5 separate regions of the Homo sapiens genome follow, and all the other regions are reported to be linked to region 1. The links are microRNA targets in miRTarBase. Many come from high-throughput screens and were not tested one by one. Region 1 holds a microRNA gene; each other region holds the end of a gene's coding sequence.
Evidence for each region. The annotated mature microRNA hsa-miR-6130 reads UGAGGGAGUGGAUUGUAUG and lies in region 1 at 2,604-2,622, shown strand. An mRNA with a match to its seed (bases 2 to 7 or 8) in the 3' UTR can be bound and repressed. Matches are read on the target gene's strand: a 7mer-m8 pairs with bases 2 to 8, a 7mer-A1 pairs with bases 2 to 7 and ends in A, and an 8mer does both.

Region 1 (4,152 bases):
TTTTTTGAGGATTGCATTTCTAAGTAGCTTTTAAAAATTACTGGAAAAACGGAATGAAAATCCAGGAGAAAAAATATGCAAAAGGTATGAACAGATAATATTAAAGTAATATAAACATTGCCTTACACATGTGCAAGACGTCCAGTTTCATGCAATAAGAGATTTACAAGTTAAACCTAGATTGAAACATTTTTCTCACCTATTAAAATTACAAAAATTCAAAATTTTGATAGAATACTGTGCTGGTAAAACCATGCCAAATAGCCACTCATATATGGCCAAAGGGAAGGAGGAATGGTAGAATTTCTATGGCTGGAAATATGGCACTAAGCAGAGAAACTGATGCAGTAAGCCCACTACTAAGAAATTCCTTGAAATTACACACCTAAAACAATATGAAAATAATCACAGTTATTAATTGTAGCATCAACTATAAGGTCACACTATTGGAAGTAATCTTAATGCTCACACATAAAAATAGCTAAATAAACTAAGGTATAGCCACACAATTTTTTACAATGCAGAGATTTAAAAAAAGGAAAAATGTCTCTATCAACTGCTAAGGAATGATAGCAAGGATATATATTGTTAAGTAACAAAGAGGAAAGTGTAAAGTAGTGTAAATAGTGTGTTGCCATTTATAGTAAATACCTTGGCAAAAATAAGCAAAGAAATGATAAAGCAAATGTTATAAATCTGGTTACCTAAAGAGAATGATTGATAAATGTAAGAAATAATGGGAAAGGGTTTTTAATTTTGAAATTATGTTACCAATTTATATATTTCAGTAGATATAAATGTTAAGAAATGAAAAAGAAAATTCGAAACAATGCAAAAACAAAATATATTAAATTGATAACATAAATACATTGAAGAAAAAAATAATACAAGTAACTTTGACATGTATTTGAATCCAAAGACAAAAAGAAACTTAGATATTTTGAAAAGGAAATTTGTTTGCTCTCATATGTTTGTTGCACCACTGTTTACAGTAGGTAAGATTTGGAAGCACTCTAGGTGTCCATAAACAGGTGAATGGATAAAGAAAATGTAAACATCCACAATGGAGTACCACTCAGCCATAAAAAAAGAATGAGATCCAGTCATTTGCAACAACATGGATGGAACTGGAGATCATAATGTAAGTGAAATAGGCACAGAAAGACAAACAATGCATGTTCTCATTTATTTGTGGGATCTAAAAATCAGAACAATTGAACTAATGGACACAGAGAGAGGATGGTTACCAGAGGCTGGGAAGGGTAGTGGAAGATTGGGAGGGGAGATGAAGATGGTTAATGGGTGCAAAAAATAAGAAATAAAAAAGAATGAATAAGATCTACCATTTGATAGCACAATAAGGTGACTATCATCAATAATAACTTAATTGTATATTTTTAAATAACTTAAATAATGTAATTGGATTATTTGTAATTCAAAGTATAAATGCTTGAGGGAATGGATACCCCATTCTCTCATTCTCTATGATGTGCTTATTTCACATAGCATGCCTATATCAAAACATCTCATATACCCCATAAATATATATACCTAATATGTATCCACACAAAATTAAAGAAATAAATTTTGATATTTTCTTTAAATATATTTAATTAACCAATAAAGATCATATATATTCTGATTACTCAGTGTGATAATTTAATATATACAATATTGAGTAATAATTATCAAAACAAATAGGGGCCTGCCTCTTAAAAAGAAAGATATTTTGAACCCAACTTCATAGGTTTGTTGTTCATAGTGCAGTTGGTATAACACTTTTGAAAATATATTAAACAAAGGGTAAGTATATTAATATATTTGAGAATTCTCACTGTGGGAAATGGAGAATACATGTATGTAATGGCATAAGTTTAGATGGATATTAGAAGTAGCAGAATAAACCCATAATTTTTATTTTAGAGCTTTATTGAGATATAATGCATATACTCTTCACCCACTTAGGATGTGCAATACAATGAAGTGTTCTCAGAGTTGTGCCTCCATCATCACAATCAAGTTTAGAACATTTTCATTAGCCCCAAAAGAAACTCCATAACCAATAATGGTTATTCCTTATTTCTCTAACTCCTCCACCGCCAGTTCTCCTCTCCCCAACCTTCCTGGCCTTATACAATCACTTGTCTACATTTTTTCTCTATATGTTTGCATATCTAAACATTTAAACAATTATTATATCTAACTTTAATTGTATATCCTTTGACCAGGATCACCCAATCCCTCTCCTCCTACTTAGCTCAGCCTCTGGTAACCACTACTCAACTCTCTGCTTCTACGAGTTCCACTTTTTAGATTCCACATATGTGAGATCATGTGGTATTTCTGTCCTGGCTTATTTCTCTTAGCATGAAATCATCCAGGTTCATTGATGTTGTCACAAATGGTGGGATTTTGTTCCTGTTTGTGACCGAATACTCTTCCATTATGTAAATATACCACATTTTCTTTAGTGATTCTTCTGCTAATAGACACTTAGGTTGATTTCATGTCTTGGTTATTGTGAATAATGCTGCAATGAATGTGGAAATGCAGGCATCCCTTCTATATACTGATGTAATTTTCCTTGGATTTATATGCAGTACTGAGGGAGTGGATTGTATGGTAGTTCTATTTTTACATTTTCTGAGGAAACTCCATGCTGTTTTCCCTAATAGCACTAATTTATATTCCCACTAACAGTGACAATTTTGGCACATTATTTACAATATTTATCTTCTGCCTTTTTGATAATAGTAATCCTAGTAGAAATTAGGTAATATTTCATTTTGGTTTTGATTTTCCATATCCTAATGATTATGATGTTGAGCATATTTTAATATACAGGTTGGCCATTTGTATGTTTTCATTTGAAACGTATCTATTCAAGTCTTTTAGCCATTTTTAAAAGGGTTATTTGTTTTCTTGCTATTAAGTTCCTTATATATTTTGAATATTAACTCCTTATCAGATGTATATTTTGCAAATTTTTTTCCATTTTGTAGATTGCCTCTTCACTGCTGTACAGAAGCTTTTTTCACTTTAAATAGTATAATTTGTCTAATTTTTACTTTTGAGGTTTTAAATAGAAAATCCTTGACCAGCCCACACGAATGTCGTGGAGCTTTTCCCTAGTAGCTTTCACAGTTTGGGATCTTACATTTAAATATGTAATCCATTTTCAGTTGATTTTTGAATATGGTGAGACATAGAGAGTCTTGTTTATTCTTCTGCATGTGAATATCCAGTTTTCACAGCACCATTTTTTGAGGAGGCTATCTTTTTCTCATTGGGTGTTCTTGCCAGATTTATTGAAAATCAGTTGGCTATAAATGCACATATTTATTTTTGGGCTCTCTGTTCTGTTCCATTGGTCTATGTGTCTGCTTTTATGCTACTACCATAATGTTTTGGTTACTATATCTTTATAGATAATTTTAAAGTCAGGTACTGTTATGATTTCAGCTTTGGCTATTTGGGGTTCTTTTGTGATTTGATACTAATTTTAGGATTTTTTTTTCAATTTATGTGAAGAATGCCATTGGTGTTTTCATGAGCATTGCATTAAATCTGTAGATCACTTTGGGTACACTTTAACAATGTTCATTCTTCTATTTAATGAAAATGAAAAATCTATATATTTATGTTTTCTTCAATTTATTTAATCAATGATTTATAGTTTTCAGTGTAAGATCCTTCACCTCCTTGGTTAAAGTTTTTTCTAGGGTTTTTTTTCTAAATAGCTGTTGTAAATGAAATTGTCTTCTTGAATTCTTTTTTTCAGATAGTTTACTATTAGTATATAGAAATGTAACTGATTTTTTGTGTGTTGATTTTGTATCTTGCAACTTTACTGGATTTATATATTAATTCTAACTGTTTTCTGGTGTAATCCATAGAGTTTTTTATATGTAACATCATGTCATCTGCAAACAGATAATTTACCTTTTTAATTTCTCTTTCAATCCCTTTTATTTCTTTCTTCTGTCTAATTGCTCTGGCTAGGACTTCTAGTACTATGTTGAATAGAAGTGATGAAAGTGGACATCCTTGTCTTGTGCTAGATTTTAGAGGAAAAGCTTTCAACTTTTCTCTGTTCCGTATGGTGTTATTTCTAAGTTTGTCATATATGGGTTTTATTGTGTTGAGGTACAT
Region 2 (4,140 bases), not on the chromosome of region 1:
CCTGTCTCTACAAAAATACAGGAATTAGCTGGGTGCAGTGGCGGGCATCTGTAGTCCCAGCTATTTGAGAGGCTGAGGCAGGAGAATTGCTTGACCTGGGAGGTGGAGGTTGCAGTGAGTGGAGATTGTGCCACTGCACTCCAGCCTGGCCAGCAGAGTGAGACTCCATCTCAAAAAAAAAAAAAAAAAAAAAGATATAGATGAGTAAGCACCAGTGAGCAAATGTGAGAGCAGGAGGTGGGCAGAATGTGGTGACAAGGCCATGTCAGCTTGATTGGGTGCACCTCACACGCACCCCACCTTTTTGGGCAGAGACAGGGTCTGTGCACAGGGTCTGTGGGTGATGGGCATCTCCTCTTCCCAGGGGACAAACGCTTCGAGTGCGCCCAGTGTCAGAAGCGCTTCATGAGGAGTGACCACCTCACCAAGCATTACAAGACCCACCTGGTCACGAAGAACTTGTAAGGCCAACTGCGGCGGGAGGCCCTGAAGATGCAGTCCCCCACCTGTGTCCTCCCTGGGCCCCTGGTGGAAAGGAGCCCTGTGGCTGCCTTGGGCCTGCCCTCAGCCCCACTCCTGTTCTGCAACTGTCCCCACAGGAAGGGGCTCTGTTCCCTGTATTGTCCTCCTTCTGAAGCCCCTTGGCTCTGCCTTGGCCCTTCCCCTCACCACGAGCTCCCGGCCTGCCCAGACTGTGGACACTGGCCGTGCCCAATGAGACGTTCTAAACCAGGACGCGTGGGAACCCTTATTTCCAAAGGAAAAACATGCATTTCACTCCGTCGAGGAGCAAAGTGAGCCCCTACCCCCCACCCCGATCCCCGCTCCCAACACTGCCGGAGTCGCGTCATGCCATGCCCCCTCTCCTGCACCTCCCTGGCCCTGCCGGCCACTGTGGACGCCCTGGGGCTTGGCACCCACCTCTGGAGAAACTCGGGGCCACCTCCACTCCATGTGCCCAGCCCCGCCACAACCTCTCCTCCAGCACATTCCAGCTCTATTTAAAAAGTAAAGACACCCACCGACTCCTGATCCCCCTCTTTTTCTATGGAGAACGTTGCCTTATACTCTACTTCAGATGATGAACACTGTGTACTGTGTGTGCTTTAAAGAAGTTTTATTTAATTGCTCCCTTCTTCCTTTCCTTGTTATTCACCTCCCTGATGCCTGCTTTCAGTTGAGGGTTGGGGGCAATGATGAGCATATGAATTTTTTCTCACTCTAGCAATTCCCTTTTCTAAATGACACAGCATTTAAACTCAAATCTGGATTCAGATAACAGCACCTGCACATCCTGCACCTCCTCCCTCTCCCTTCACCTCACCCCTGCCCGGCCCAAGCTCTACTTGTGTACAGTGTATATTGTATAATAGACAATTGTGTCTACTACATGTTTAAAAACACATTGCTTGTTATTTTTGAGGCTTTTAAATTAAACAAAAATCCAACTTTATTTTTAGTTGTAACTGCTTGAGGTATGTTTTATGAATTAAGTGACAGATTTGTTATCCTTTATTAACGTACTTTGTTGGTCAGCACTGGGCTGACAAAAATTTTTTCTTGCTAATAAATTTAGTTGCCTGAGGCAAAATCTTCAACTTGGCAGTTCGGCTTCCTTTGTCTTTTCCCTTGGAGAGCTCGGAGAGGGGACTCCAGAGGAGGGAGCTGTGGTCTCTCAGAGCGATCCACACTGGGACCAAGGTAGGACCTTGCCCTCCTGACCCTCGGCAAACCCAAGCCACATGCCCAAAAGGGGCCGCGGCCACATATACCTCATGACACTGGCACGAGCCCCCAGAGCACCTCCAAGGGCCAGGGCCCAATGCAGGTGTTCCTGCCTTTTTCTTCTGTAAGCCAGTTTTGCCTGTACACAAAGCAGATACGAAGAGCCAAGTTACAGCAGTGACCTCAGCCAGCAACTTAGCTCTTCCACCCACCTCCCCAACCCCTGGAGGAAGGCATTGGCCTCAGAGCCCATTAATAAGAAGCTTAGAGAGGAGAGCCAATGGGGCCTTGGCTCAGTCCCCTCCAGAAGGCTACAGTCTGGCAACAATGCATTTCCCCAAGGGCCAAGGTCCCTTCCCAAAGTGAAGGGCGAGGCAGGTTCCTGGGAGGGCTTGGCAGCTAGAGAGGCCTGGAGCCCAGCTGCACCCGATAGAGGACTCTGGCCACAGATACTGGTTCCTTCTATATCGCCTGCCCAGTAACCCAGAGAGGACAAGAAGTTGATTGTGCCTTTTGGTTTTAGCAGATGCTACAAATCTGAAATTTTGGTGGGGATTTGTTTTGCTTTGTTTTGCAGAACTAATAGGAACTCAGGGGTTGCGATGTTGTGCAGATTAAGATTGGAGCTAGCTCAGTACATGTGTTTAAGCCCCACAGGGCCCTGAAGAGCATCCGGCCTGAAGAGACAGGCAAGTCCGCCTCAAGCATGTAAAGGACAGCATGTGCTTTCACTCACCCTCGAAAGGACACAGCTGGGATTGCTGTTCTGTTCAGGAGTGGCGAGGCTCGTTTTGAGCTATCCATTCCCCTGCTCTGTTCCCTTTGTCACCAGCCACCTGTGTCTGCCAGCAAACAGCTTTTCCTTAGAGCCAGTCAACCCTCAAATGGCTGAAAAAGTAAAAAGCCCACAGATCTCAGATGGATCCAGGTTCTCTGCCCTTTCCCTCTTCTTTGTTAACAAGCAGGGGCCTTTCCTATCCCTACGGAAGTCGTTTGGGCAATACTAGACCACCAGCTGAATCTACCTTGACACAGAAGCCTCTTCCTCAGCCCCTCAGCTCTGCATCTCATCACCGCACTGGCAGCAGGTGGAAGACATGAGGTGTATTTATTCCTCATGCGTGGACTGCATGACTAGAAAACTGCCTTGCTGCATTCTGAATAAGGGGATTGGTGGAGAGAAGGGGAATATTAACAAAGTGACCTCTTTTTGCCACGTTTCCCTTGGCTTTGCTCTCAGGCACAAAGAATGATCCTTTCCTGGGAGCTGATTTCAAGCCATGTGCTTTATGCTTCCAGTACAGAAACTGACCTGACTCCCCAGCATCATTTGGAAATGAAGGTGCCAGCCCCAAGTTGGGCAGGATGAGCATTTCCCATGTAGGATTTCCCTTCTCCAGTGAGATGGGGGTTCAAAAGTTATGTCTGATCATCTCTGCCTCCCTTGGGATGGCTAAGAGCGAGAGAATGTATTCTGCCTAGCTGAGTGATGGCACAAGGAAAGCACAGAAAGACTTGTGGGCAAATTAACCCTCCTCTGGCTTTAACCTATCCATTATTTGAGAGTTGCAGGGGAACTGTTGAAGGTGTGATGCAGTCTAAGCTCACCCTAGGCAAGAGGCTCCCACAGACACCTGATCCTGATGGGCCCTTGATGAAAATCTGGGTGCAGCTCAAGGGTAGGGGCCCCACATGTGTAGTTCCTCCTCTGTCCTCTACTGTCCCCAGCGTCATGTGCACCAAAGCCCATCCCTCATGCCCTTCCTCTCTGTCCAGCTGACACTTGGCATTGTGCTCATTATCCCACAGCCTAGGATTCCATGCCTGGAAGAAAGAGGGACTGGGCAGGATTTCCCTCCCAAAGGCAAATCCAGGCATTATATGTACTTTTTTTTTTTTCTTTAACAAAACCAGCAAATGGGTCTTCCTTGCCCTTCCTTCAGACCACCCAGTCCATTTTTACAATCATCTTTCTGGCCGGGCACAGTGGCTCATGCCTGTAATCCCAGCACTTTGGGAGGCCGAGGCGGGTGAATCACTTGAGGTCAGGAGTTCAAAACCAGCCTGGCCAACATAGTGAAACCCTGTCTCTACTAAAAAATATAATAATTAGCCGGGCGTGGTGGCGCATGCCTGTAGTCCCAGCTACTTGGGAGGTTGAGGCAGGCAGGAGAATTGGTTGAACCCAGTAGGCAGAGGTTGCAGTGAGCCGAGATCGTGCCACTGCACTCCAGCCTGGGTGACAGAGCAAGACTCTGTCTCAAAAAAAAGAAAAAAAATCATCTTTCCAGTGCCCTTGTGAGGCCCCAGGCTTGTTTGATGACAGTGCTGATGTTACAGCCTGCCACACGACATATTTTGAGGAAGACAGGATGGAGCAAGATAAGGGTTCAGATCTATCCCCAAGCCCAGGGT
Region 3 (4,152 bases), not on the chromosome of region 1:
AAAAGCAAGTAAGATTATGTCAACTACGAAGACAAAATATGTTGCTTCAACAGCAACTGGATGATGTTCACAACAAAGCTGACAATCAAGAAAAAACAGTAATTGATAGTCAAGCCAAATGTGATGCTACAGCACAAAATCTTCAAGCTGAGTGCATAAAGCACCGTCTTTTGCTAGAAGAACAAGAGGATGATCAATAAAGTTAATCATTTGAAAGAAAAACAATGTCAATATGAAAGAGAGAAAGCAGAAAGAGAAGTAGTTGTGAGACAACTTCAACAAAAACAGGGTGACGTCCTAAACAATCAACAACAAAAGCTTTGCTGGATGCTTCATTGCGTCACTGCGTCCATTGAGAAAGTGAGATGTAGGATTCAAGGAAGAAATTAGGTCAGATGAGAATTCAATTTCAAGAAAAATGGAATCAACTTACAGCGACTATAAAATGTACTAAGGAGACGCAAGGCCACGTACAAAAACTTGAAATAGAAAATTCTAGTGTTAAGAAATACAATTAAAAAGCAAGATGGCCAAATTGAGCAGCTTCAGAAAATCCTGCGAAGTTCAAGTTTGATGCAGCAGTTATTGCAAGAAAATGAAACTACAGAAATAGATGAAGCTTCTTCTGAATTTAAATCTGGATCCTCTGTAGCAGAGGTTCCCAACCTACAGGCCATGGACAGGTCCATGACCTGTTAGGAACCAGCTGCACAGCAGGAGAGTTACTGTGGATCTTCTAGATCATCTGCATGCCATGTGAATCTTAAAACCAGTTTTTAATTTCTACAAAAAAAAAAAAAAAAAAGCCTGCTTGGCTTTGGATGGGGACTGCATTATATCTATAGATTAATATGGGAAAGAATTAACATCAACAATGTTGAGTCTCTCAACCTATCAACAAGATATTTACTTAGGTCTTAATTTTTCTTAGCAATGCTTTTTAGTTATCAGTGTACAGATAATCCACATAGTTTGTCGGGTTTATTCCCAAGAATTTTATATTTTAATGCTATTGTAAATGGTATTATTTTTAAATTTTCAATTCCTAATTCTTTACTTCTAACATGGAGAAACACAATTGATTTGTGTATATCAATTATATATCCTGCTGTGTTGCGAAACTCACTTGCTGGTTTCAGTAACTTAGTAATGGATTTGATTTGGTTTTCTACATAGATGATAATATCTGTGAATAGACAGTTTTACTCATTTCTTTTCAATCTAAAGGCCTTTCATTTTTCTCCTTCCCTCCCTCTTTCCCCCTACTCCCAATTAAAACATGATTGCAGTGGCTAGAATTTTCAGTACAACGTTGAATAGAAGTGGTAAGAGTTGACATCTCTGTCTTATTCTCAATCTTAGGGGAAAACATTCAGCCTTTCATCATTACATAGGATGTTAGCAGTAGATATTTTAAAGATGCCCTTCGACAGGTTGAGGAAATTCTCTTGTATCCCTAGTTTGCTGAGATTATTTTTTAAACAAAGCATGGTTGTTCAATCTAAAAAAAAAAAAAGGACATGGACATGGAGGGATGAGCCTTCTAGGTGTCTTATTCCAGGCTGCTGGAGCTGCTGGAGCTCACAGTGACTAGCCAAGCCTCGTATCAGTTCTAAAGAAAAGGAACCATGAGCCCTCCTGACCTCCTCCATGTCCCTTCTGACACCACAGCCCTTCTGAGATCTGTCTCCAAGAGGCACCTGGGATGTGAAAGAATCCCACAAAAGCCAGAGGGGTAGCATAAAATTTCCTTTCCTGGCTGAGGACAGGTTAGTGACCTGAGCAGATGACTGGATGTCATCAATAGCCTAGAAAGAACCTGGGAAGACTAGCTCCTCTCTCTGGCCCCGTCAGGCTTGTTCACACCTCCCCAGCCTCAGAAGAAAAGATCAGCAGGGCACAGTGGCTCACACCTGTAATCCCAGCACTTTGGGAGGTCAAGGTGGGCGGATTACCTGAGGTCAGGAGTTCCAGACCAGCTTGGCCAACATGGTGAAACCCTGTCTCCACTAAAAACACAAAAATTAGCACGGGCGTGGTGGCGGGCACCTGTAATCCCAGCTACTTGGAAGGCTGAGGCAGGAGAATTGCTTGAACCCGGGAGGTGGAGGTTGCAGTGAGCAGAGATCACGCCACTGCACTCCAGCCTGGGCGACGGAGTGAGACTCCATCTCAAAAAGAAAAAAAAAAAAAAACCAGTCAGAGTTCTTAGCCACAGTAGGACAAAGAAAGGTTCAGCAATTAGCCACAAGAAAGGGGACAACCAGCAGGCCACTTCCTTTGGTTTAGCAGTGACAGAGGAGGAGCCCTAGTGGACCAGTTGGCCCTGTGCAAAGAACAGAAAGGCAATCCAGATAAACGTCATTTGTAGGATGACTCTGGAGGTCCTGGAGGGCCAGGAATGCTGGCTGACAAGACAGGGCACTAATCGTAGTCAGGCAACAAGGAGGAGCTGAAAGGGAACACAAGGGACAGTGAACATCCTGCAGATCCAGGAAGAAGCTTCCAAAAGAGATGGGCAGGGAGGGCCAGGGAGGAGATGGCTTGGCTGATGAAAACGAGGGAAACAGTCACAGGCAGTTACAGGAGGCACAACCAGAAACAGGCCAGGAAACTCTGGGGTCATGAAGGAGGCTGAAGCTGTGGCTTTGGGTGGATCCAAAAACCAGTGTGGGCCTTGATTCCCTTGACTGCACAGTGGTATAACAATCCCTGCTTCCTCACAAGGCTCTCCATAAGAACCAGGTAAGATCGTGGACACAAAAGCACTTTGTAGGTTAGGCATCAGGCTGACATGAGACCACCTGCAGTTTATCCCCAGTGTCCCCAGCACAGGCTAAGTGCAAACACTGGGACTATTTAAAGGTCACTGGGCAGGCGTGCCTACTTCCTGCTGGCTGCACAGCAGGGATCTGTCTTCCCACCCCACTCTCCCCTGGCCCAACTCCAGGGGAGAATGGAAAATAAAATCAGTTTAAAAGCAAACATTTATAAATAATGGAGAAAAAAATATAGCTGAGAGCAGCAGGATTTTTCAACTCCTATGGGCTCTCGTCCAAAAAAAAAACAGCAGCATTTTCTGCTGCTGCTCTGTTCTTTCCCCATCTAGTGCCAGGAGGTCATAAAGAAAGATATGCAGGGAGAGGGAGGGAGGGATGGGAAATAAAACCCAAGAGAAAAAGAGTCTGCACCTAATGTCAGAAAATACATTCCACAGTCAGGCGCAGAATCAGAACACCAAGAATGCTTAGATTCAAATTCAGAAACAGCATATACCACCAAAAAGTGCTTCTTTTCTACCTCACTCCATGGCCAGGCTCTCCAGGGGCTTGTCTAAAGCAGAGTCACTTGTTCTCAGATGCCAGAGTAGAAGCAGACTCACTCTATGCAGGACCACGGTGATGGCTTCCATGCTGAGGGACAAGTGGACCCCAAAACTCTGTCCCTTACTGTTGCTCCCGTGATCTCTGATGGGGCTGCCTTTTGCCACCTGGGAATCACTTGCACCCAAGGCTTATGTGCTGTTGCTGAATAGGTTTGTATTCATGGGAATTCAGTGGGACAACATCCAGAGAGGAAACAGGTACATGAGGAAGATTCCACTCCACAAGATACAGAACCCACTTCTCATCCTGTGCTACTGACATTCAGGTTCGAGAATGTATTGTTGCTTCCAAAAGTAACCCTCAAATGTTCGAATCACAAGCAACACATTGCTGCAAGATAAAAGGCACATGTCTGTAAGACAGAGGTTTCGAAGATAGTTACAAAACTGTCCACCAGCTTCTGTCCATAGTGCCTTCCAAAGCTTCATAAAACTGGCCATGAATTATGCAAGACACACGGCAAAACACTTCTTCACAGCATCCCTAGGAAAGAAAAGACACAAAGATGAGTGGAACGTCATCACCCCAAAGGCACTCCTTTAGAGGGCACCCAGAGTGGAAGCTGCAGAGTAGAAAGCACCTAGACTGAAAGATCAGACCTTCACAGCATCAAACTGCAGCTTCAACATTTATTAGTAGTACTATCCTGGGAAAGTTCCTTGTCCTGTTTGAGTTTCAAATTCCTCATCTGTAAGAGGGGATGTCCCCACTTACCCGACAGTCTGATTATGGGATTAGCCATCATAATCAGAGAAAAAGATAACAT
Region 4 (4,152 bases), not on the chromosome of region 1:
GTTACACTACCGTAAGTAGCACTGAGTTACACACCATCACTTCAAACTAAATTGCCCTATTGCTTATTTATTTTAAGCTGAAAGGAACGTATTTTCTTCCACTGCATTTGCATGCTGAAAGAAACTGCAATGCAGCAGATTTTTTCTTCTTTTTAAATACCACTTTAGGGTTTTTCAATCTGAATGCAAATTTGGGAGGATGATTTTATGTTAATTATGAGTAGTGTTTTCACTGCTAGGCAAAACAATCAGAAATTTTATAGATTTCCTGTTTAATGGTGGTATATTTTTCTTTTAAAGCATCAACATGCTCAAGTTACCTGAATACCCAAGTAAAGAAATACTCAAGGACAGACTTCTTGTGGCACTACATTGTGGCAGCTATGGTTACACAATGGCATAATGAAGTCTGGAAAACTCCTCTGACTACTGATGCACAATTCAGAATGGCAGAAGTAATTTGGGAAAATGTCAACAAAAAAGCAGCCTAAATGCAACCCATAGGCAGGGCTGATGCTTCCAATTTATAAAGGATCATCAGGTTTTCTGTTTCTCTCTTTTCCCTTTTATGTTTTCTCTGTTTGTGATACAATTAGAAAATATAAAATCACAGTAGATTTTATTTTTTAAAATGCTAACTGAAAGTAATAGAGACTGTCCTTTTTCATAATTAATTTTATCCAAGATTGTATTAAGGCAAAATCTGATTCTACATTCCACCTCTGCTATGTAACTGTCTTGTTAAAAGGGTGTTTTCTCCTAATTTCTGATATATTATATGAGGTCATCCAGCTGGTGTGTTCTTTTGCATGTAAACTGCCATTTATATTTTAGAAAACTATTGTATAGAATGGATTTAGATTGTCTATAAAGCCACAAATACGTATTTTGCCACAGTGTATTCTATATTGCAATGATTTTTTTAGCATTTTAATATTTTAATATATATTGTAAAATTTAGACTGATGATACTAACAGTTGATGAAATGACATATAATTTATATATGAAAGCTTACGCTATATTGTATGAATTATTTGCATCTTTCAGTGGCCAGTTTTCCATATGTATATATTATGGTCTCAATGTTTTTCTTACGCCTCATTTTAATTTATAATGAAGGTAAAATTAAAATGTATTTTACCACGTTTCTTTTCATTACTTTTATCTGTGAGCTCTGACACATCTGAAAAAGTAATCTGATGTGCAAATTATAATTTAAATATGTTAATTTTTTTGCTTCTTAAATTTGCTTTTCATCATTAAAATGTCAAGTTCAAGTGATATGTGCCTAATATCACTTGGATGTTGGTGGGTTTTTGAATTTTTGGGTGGTTAATCAGTTTTATTTTGAAAAGACGTACTTGAATAGTTACAGCATATGTTTGAACAGGAAGTAGGAACATGCATACACGAAGAAATGCTAACGGAAGGATTTGTTATGTTTAGGATCTTCCCTTGGAAACTAAAAATAGAATATTAATGACATTACTGTTTGTAGAATGACATATGCAGATTTTCTCATAAGCAGTCATTGTGTTTGCCAGTAATGTTTGAGAGACATGTAAGTTGAAAGTTTTGCTAAATTATAAAGCTCCTTTAATTCGTTGGTTTTGATTCTCTTATTCTCTTGTCTTTTCTAAATGTTAACAAAATATATCTTAACAGATTACATGAAATTTAGGAATTATTTAAAAGTTACCATTAGCTCTAAAATTAAGATTCGGATGCTTTATTTATAGTAACTGAAGCTAATAATGTTTTATGTTTTGATTTTTTGAAATTTAATTGTAGAAGTCACTGCCTTCTGAGTTTTCAAATAGATAACCACCTTTAATATTACACTGCTTATAATACTAATGTTTACAGATATGTTTCTGTTTATAACCATATAATACATTGGCTTTGTCATATTAGTTTTTTTTGCAAGTAGTTATGTAAAAGAGATAGATAATAAAATATTAAATAACTGAGTGTGGTGGCTTATGTCTGTAATCTCAGCATTTCGAGAGGCTGAGGTGGGAGAATTGCTTAAGACCAGAAGTCAAGACCAGCCTAGACAGCATAGGCAGACCCCATCTCTACAAAAAAATAAAAATAAGCTGGGCATGGTGGCATGTGCCTGTGGTTGGAAGGCTAGGTGCGAGATCGCTTGAGCCCAGGAGATCGAGGCTGTAATGAGACATGATCATGTGACTGCACTCCAGCCTGTGAGACTTTGTCTCAAAAAAAATATATATATGTATATATTCATATACATATATATGTGTGTACATATTCATATACATATATGTGTGTACATATTCATATACATATATATGTGTGTATATATTCATATACATATATATGTGTGTATATATTCATATACATATATATGTGTGTATGTATTCATATACATACGTGTGTATGTATTCATATACATACGTGTGTATGTATTCATATACATACGTGTGTGTGTATTCATATACATACGTGTGTGTGTATTCATATACATACGTGTGTGTGTATTCATATACATACGTGTGTGTGTATTCATATACATACGTGTGTGTGTATTCATATACATATGTGTGTGTGTATTCATATACATATGTGTGTGTATTCATATATGTGTGTATTCATATACATGTGTGTGTATTCATATACATGTGTGTGTATATATATTTGTATACATATACATGTGTATATATATTCGTATACATATACATGTGTATATATATTCGTATACATACATGTGTATATATATTCGTATACATACATGTGTATATATATTCGTATACATATATGTGTATATATATTCGTATACATACATGTATATATATTCGTATACATATATGTGTATATATATTCGTATACATGTATGTGTATATATTCGTATACATATATATGTGTATATATATTCGTATACATGTATGTGTATCTATATACCCATATATATACCCATATACATATATATACACACACCCATATGCATATATATAAAATAGTATTTTAACCATCAATTTGAATATTTTAAAATATAGATCTGCTTATTTTAGGATTTATTTTTTCACATTTTTAAAATAAGAGTGTAGTTAATATAAAGAGATTTTACAAAGATTAAAAATACTATTTAGAGGTAGCATCTTTCTAATTTACTCCATTCCCACAATTTCTTCTGTATGTAGATGGATATGTTGAATGCAAGGTAGTATAGAAAAATGGTTAGATTTTCTCCTTTGGGAAAAAGATTATATTAATAGGAAAATGACTCAATTCTTAAAACATGGTAGTTTCATATAAGGAAGAAAACAGAAATAAAACACTCGAATATAAAGCAAGGGAATGTATTATAGGAAACTGATTAATGAAACTATCTGGGCAGAGTAGATTAAGTTATCCAAATAGTTTGAGGAGATAGTTATTAACCACGTAGTTAATAAAATCCATTTTCAAGTTAACCCCAAAACAAAATGTAATAGAAGGAAATCCCAGCTTGGAAATAATCTGCTGAACACAGCCTCTACTATTCAGGCAGTCTTTTGGGTATCGGGAAACGCAAGCTTTAAAGGATAGCTCACAAGTTGGAGGCCCAGGAGATGATTCCTACTCACATGTTTTGTTTGTCATACTGTTTCTAAAATTTTGAATGAGTTACCAAGATTTTACAAAACCTGAAGATTTCATGCAGAAGTCAGGAGTTTTGGGTCCTTTTGAGCAGTGAGACAATCTGACAATATTGGGTGCATGGGTGCATATTCCTGCAAAGCATTATGGAATTGAGTAAATGCTGCTGCTTTGAATAACTAAATGCCCTCTCCAGTTTGCCATTTCCTCCTCTCTCTCTCTCCCCCCTCCCTCCCCCCTCTTTTTTCTACCCTCTTTTTTTTTTTTTTTTTTTTTTTAACTCTGTTGCCCAGGCTGGAGTGCAGTGGCATGATCTCGGCTCACTGCAACCTCCACCTCCTGGGTTCAAGTGATTCTGCTCCTCAGCCTCCCGAGTAGCTGGGATTTTAGGCATGCACCATCACACCCGACCAATTTTTGTATTTTTAATAAAGACGGGGTTTCATCTTGTTGGTCAGGCTGGTCTTGAACCCCTAGGGACCTCAAGTGATCCACCCGCCTCAGCCTCCCCAAAGTGCTGGGATTATGTCACCACACCAGACCAGTTC
Region 5 (4,000 bases), not on the chromosome of region 1:
AGGAAGACGATGAAAGTTCAGAGCAGGGAGAGAAAGGCACCCATCATGGCAGCCGGGACCAGGAAGATGAGGAGGATGAGGAGGAAGGTCATGGCCTCAGCCTGAACCAGGAGGAGGAAGAAGAGGAAGACAAGGAGGAGGAGGAGGAGGAAGAAGACGAGGAGAGGAGGGAAGAGAGGGCTGAGGTTGGGGCCCCACTGAGCCCAGACCACAGCGAGGAGGAAGAGGAGGAGGAGGAGGGGCTGGAGGAAGATGAGCCCCGCTTCACCATCATCCCCAACCCACTGGACAGGAGAGAGGAGGCTGGAGGTGCCTCCAGCGAGGAGGAAAGCGGTGAGGACACAGGTAAGTGGCCTGGGCTGGTGTGGGTGGGAAGGAACCGAGTCAGCCTGGGTCACTGCTGCCCTCCTGTCCCCGCAGGTCCACAGGATGCTCAGGAGTATGGGAACTACCAGCCAGGGTCCCTGTGTGGCTACTGCTCCTTCTGCAATGTATGTCCCCAGCCCAGATCCACCCACCAAGGTGTCCCCAGAATCTGTCCCAGGGGCCCTGGGGTGGTGCTGTGGGAGGGCTCAGAGCAAGGGCAGGCCAGGGTCAGTTCTGAAAGAAAAGAGATCCTTCTGCAGGCATGTGAGGTGAGGACAGACTGAAGGCTGGGAGGCTGGGGCAGTGGTCCAGGAAGGAGAGGACAAGACCCAAGCTGCATCTTGGGGTGTGGGGACAGAGACAGGGGTCTGTGGCAAAGAGAGTCGGGGGAAGGAGGGATGGCACAGGGGCTGATAGGCTAGGGGGAGAATAGGCAGAGAGCGGGTGGAGAGAGCACCTGAGCCCACCCTGACAGGGAGACATGGGGTCGCCCTGAGATAGAAAACCAGGGGCAGGGCCGGGTGTGGTGGCTCACGCCTGTAATCTCAGCACTTTAAGAGGCCAGGGTGGGCGGAACACGAGGTCAGGAGATCGAGACCATCCTGGCTAACACGGTGAAACCCCATTTCTACTAAAAAATACAAAAAAATTAGCCGGGCGTGGTGGCACGCACCTGTAATCCCAGCTACTCAGGAGGCCGAGGCAGGAGAATCGCTTGAACCCGGGAGACGGAGGTTGCAGTGAGCTGAGGTTGCGCCACTGCACTCCAGCCTGGGCGACAGAGAGAGACTCCGCCTCAAGAAAAAAAAGGAAAAAAAGGGAAAGGAAGGAAACCAGGGGCAGGGGAGGGGAGGGGAGGCTGGTTTGGGGGGCAGATACAGAGCTCAGTGTTAGAGATAAAGAGGGTAGAGTCTGGGGAAGCGTCCAGGGTGCAGGGGTGGGCCAGGGGCGGGTACCTCCCAAGTGGCGTTAGAGTTTCCATCTAACCAGGCTCCCCCGGTCCCCAGCGATGCACTGAATGTGAGAGCTGTCACTGTGATGAGGAGAACATGGGTGAGCACTGCGACCAGTGCCAGGTGAGACCTCACCTCACACTCAAGGCTCCACTGGGCCTCAGGATGCACCGGGACCCTCTGAGGACCCCCAGCCCTAAATCCTGGCCTCTGACCCAACCCCTTACCCCTGATGCAACCTTGACTCCACAAGCGATCCTGACTCCAACCTTAACCTAGACCTAGCCTCTGGTCCGGGTCTGGTCCCGGCCCCATCCTAACTCCGCCCCCGGCCACGCCCCACGCTCACTCTCTCTCCCCGTCCCCGCCTCCAGCACTGTCAGTTCTGCTATCTCTGCCCGCTGGTCTGCGAAACGGTCTGCGCTCCAGGTGAGCATGGGCGGGGCCCTGGAAAAACCTGAGGAAGGTGCCGGGCCCAGCGTGGTGAATCCTGGTGGGGGCGGAGCCTGGCCCGGTAGGCTGGTGGGGCGGGGCTAAGAGGGGAGGCGTGGCCAAGGCTCTGAGCACGTGGGCCGGGGCCTGGCTCGAGGAACACCAGGTGGAGTTGCTGGAGCCAAGGGACAGAAATGAGTGGAGGGTTGAGATGCGGGCTTAGAGCCTAATGGGCGAGGCCAACTCAAGTAGGAATCGAAGGGGCGGGGCTACTGGAGAACGGAATCACCCAGAACGAAAAAGGGGTCCGGTAGAAGGGATTCAGTTGGAAGAAGGAATTAGGGAAAAGGAGGTGGAGCTAGCACTAATCTCGCACGCTATACTGAGTGGCTGCCTAATTTTGCTCGTGCAGTACCCCTCAAGCCTCTTTTCTCTGCTGTCCCACAGGAAGCTACGTTGACTATTTCTCCTCGTCCCTTTATCAGTAAGTGTGTAAAAGGGGAGCGTGTAAAAGCCCCGTTTAGAGAAGTGCTTGTCTCGCTATGAGTTATCAGATGACTCTGGGACTCCATTTCCCCGTCCATGAAATGGGCAGGTTAATGATCTCTAAGCGTCCTGGGGTGGGCTTTGAACACCAGCTGTCTAACTTCTGGCGTTCTCGTCTCCAGGGCCCTGGCAGACATGCTGGAAACGCCGGAACCCTGACCCAGTCGCTCGACTGCGACGCAGGTGTACCTCCCCCTGCCTTCCAACCCCTTTCCACGAGCTATATTTATTTCTCCGAATAAACGTGCTCCCCGAAACCTCATTGTCAGACGTGGGGTCTGGGAATCTCAGGGCATCGGGGAATGCGGGTAGGGTCTAGAGACCTGGACCTAGACTTGAGGGATGAGGGGCCTGGACTCCTGGCTCGAGGTGGTTGGTTGAACAGCCCCCCCCCCCCCCGCAAAAAAAAAATCAGTCAACAAGGAAGCTTTTTGAAACAGTTCTCTTTACCCGTGATCACTGAGTGACGCCTGGGGCGGGGAGGCCGACCGAGAGTCGGGGGCGAGGGCTCCCCCACCGTCCCCCTGCCCCCACGCCACGTCGCCCAGCGGCATCGTGGAAAGAGGATTCTCCCATGCAAACCCCGGAGCCAGAGGAGAAGGGGAAGCGCCATTCTGCGCCCCCTACCCCCGGGGCACGGACACGGCCACAGCACGGGGGGCGGTGAGGCCCCGGGGACACGAGACACGGGGGAGGGAGAGGGGAACCCGCCCGCAGATGACCCGGGGGACCGGCGACCGGACGCGGCGGGGCGGAGCTGAGTGGCACAGGGGGCGAGGCTTGTAGCAGCGAGTCCCCCCTCCCCTCCTTTCGGACGAAGAAGGAAGACTTGGGCCCCGCGACTGGGCAGGAAAAAGGGGAGGGAGCAGCCTCTCCCCGCATGCGGCCCGGGAGGGAAGCCCCGCCCCCTTCCCGCGGGTAAAGGACACCCGTCTCCCAACAGAAACTGATCAATAAATTACAAAGTAGAGAAAAGGAAAGCGGACGTTTGGGGCGGGATTTCTTCCTCCCCGCTTCTTCCCCCTCTCAGTCCAGTTCATGTGGTTTGGTCCAGGCCCCGGCCCTGTGCGAGGCGGGCGCGCGCACTCCCGCTGGTCTGTACAGATGGTCCAGTCCTCGGCGCGAGCTCCCCCGCCCGCTCTCCCCGGCGAGGCCACAGTCCGGGCAGGAGAGGGAACAGCCCAGCCTCGGGAAGATTCTTCCGTCCGAGTGAGGTCACCTGCATGACGCCGGGCAGCGCGTGGAGCAGTGAAGATCCACCGTGCCGCCCCGCACCCCCAAGGTCGCCCAGCACGGTCCTCACCTGGAGGCCTGCACTAGCAGGAATAGGTCCGGACCGAAACGCCGTCTGCCCGGGAACTCCCAGAAGTCTGGCCTGGAGGGAGAGCGAGCAGCGGTTCAGCCTGGAGCACCCTCCTCCCTGTTCCTCTCCAGGATTCCTCCCTTTGGACTTCCCTTCCCGATGTCACAACGATCGCCGGGCTCCACATGGGTTTCCCTCCCTTCCCCGCAGCCAAGGACTCAAACTCGCATTGGGCGAGTTCACTCCCGCCCTGGGAAGGGGGAGTGGGATTTATCCATTTCATCCTGACGGGGGAGTCCGGAACGTTGGAGCAGTCCATTCCTCAGGGGTGGGCGAGAAAGGACTAGGCCATTCCAGAACCCGGACTACTGAGGTGGTCCATGCCCCACCCTAGGGAAGC

Region 2: the mRNA of SP2 is a reported target of hsa-miR-6130. Seed matches in the 3' UTR shown: 7mer-m8 at 1,304-1,310.
Region 3: the mRNA of SFT2D2 is a reported target of hsa-miR-6130. Seed matches in the 3' UTR shown: 7mer-A1 at 3,415-3,421, 7mer-m8 at 3,147-3,153 and 7mer-m8 at 3,143-3,149.
Region 4: miRTarBase lists HACE1 as a target of hsa-miR-6130. The part of its 3' UTR that is shown has no 7-base or 8-base seed match.
Region 5: the mRNA of PPFIA3 is a reported target of hsa-miR-6130. Seed matches in the 3' UTR shown: 7mer-m8 at 3,157-3,163 and 7mer-m8 at 2,990-2,996.

Annotation. Positions count from the first base shown.
Region 1 is chr21:23,076,751-23,080,902 of GRCh38, forward strand. It overlaps MIR6130 (microRNA 6130), which reads left to right and starts at 2,534; the gene lies at 2,534-2,642.
Region 2 is chr17:47,927,360-47,931,499 of GRCh38, forward strand. SP2 (Sp2 transcription factor) reads left to right here. Exons shown (of 7, transcript NM_003110.6): 7 at 365-1,598. The coding sequence ends at 465. All of the region lies in intron 1 of SP2-AS1 (SP2 antisense RNA 1), which reads right to left. Among named protein-coding and RNA genes, the nearest start is that of SP2-AS1, 12 kb to the right of the region's middle. RefSeq lists an enhancer at 10-511.
Region 3 is chr1:168,242,218-168,246,369 of GRCh38, reverse strand. SFT2D2 (SFT2 domain containing 2) reads right to left here. Exons shown (of 8, transcript NM_199344.3): 8 at 1-3,869. The coding sequence ends at 3,830. It also overlaps the pseudogene ANKRD36BP1. Among named protein-coding and RNA genes, the nearest start is that of SFT2D2, 18 kb to the right of the region's middle.
Region 4 is chr6:104,725,913-104,730,064 of GRCh38, reverse strand. It overlaps HACE1 (HECT domain and ankyrin repeat containing E3 ubiquitin protein ligase 1), which reads left to right. Exons shown (of 24, transcript NM_020771.4): 24 at 301-1,971. The coding sequence ends at 403. Among named protein-coding and RNA genes, the nearest start is that of HACE1, 130 kb to the left of the region's middle.
Region 5 is chr19:49,149,752-49,153,751 of GRCh38, reverse strand. It overlaps PPFIA3 (PPFI scaffold protein A3), which reads right to left. Exons shown (of 30, transcript NM_003660.4): 29 at 3,601-3,672; 30 at 2,726-3,516. The coding sequence ends at 3,614. It overlaps HRC (histidine rich calcium binding protein), which reads left to right. Exons shown (of 6, transcript NM_002152.3): 1 at 1-345; 2 at 421-491; 3 at 1,374-1,442; 4 at 1,694-1,748; 5 at 2,199-2,235; 6 at 2,420-2,554. The coding sequence ends at 2,456. Among named protein-coding and RNA genes, the nearest start is that of HRC, 3.6 kb to the left of the region's middle. RefSeq lists an enhancer at 1,811-2,420.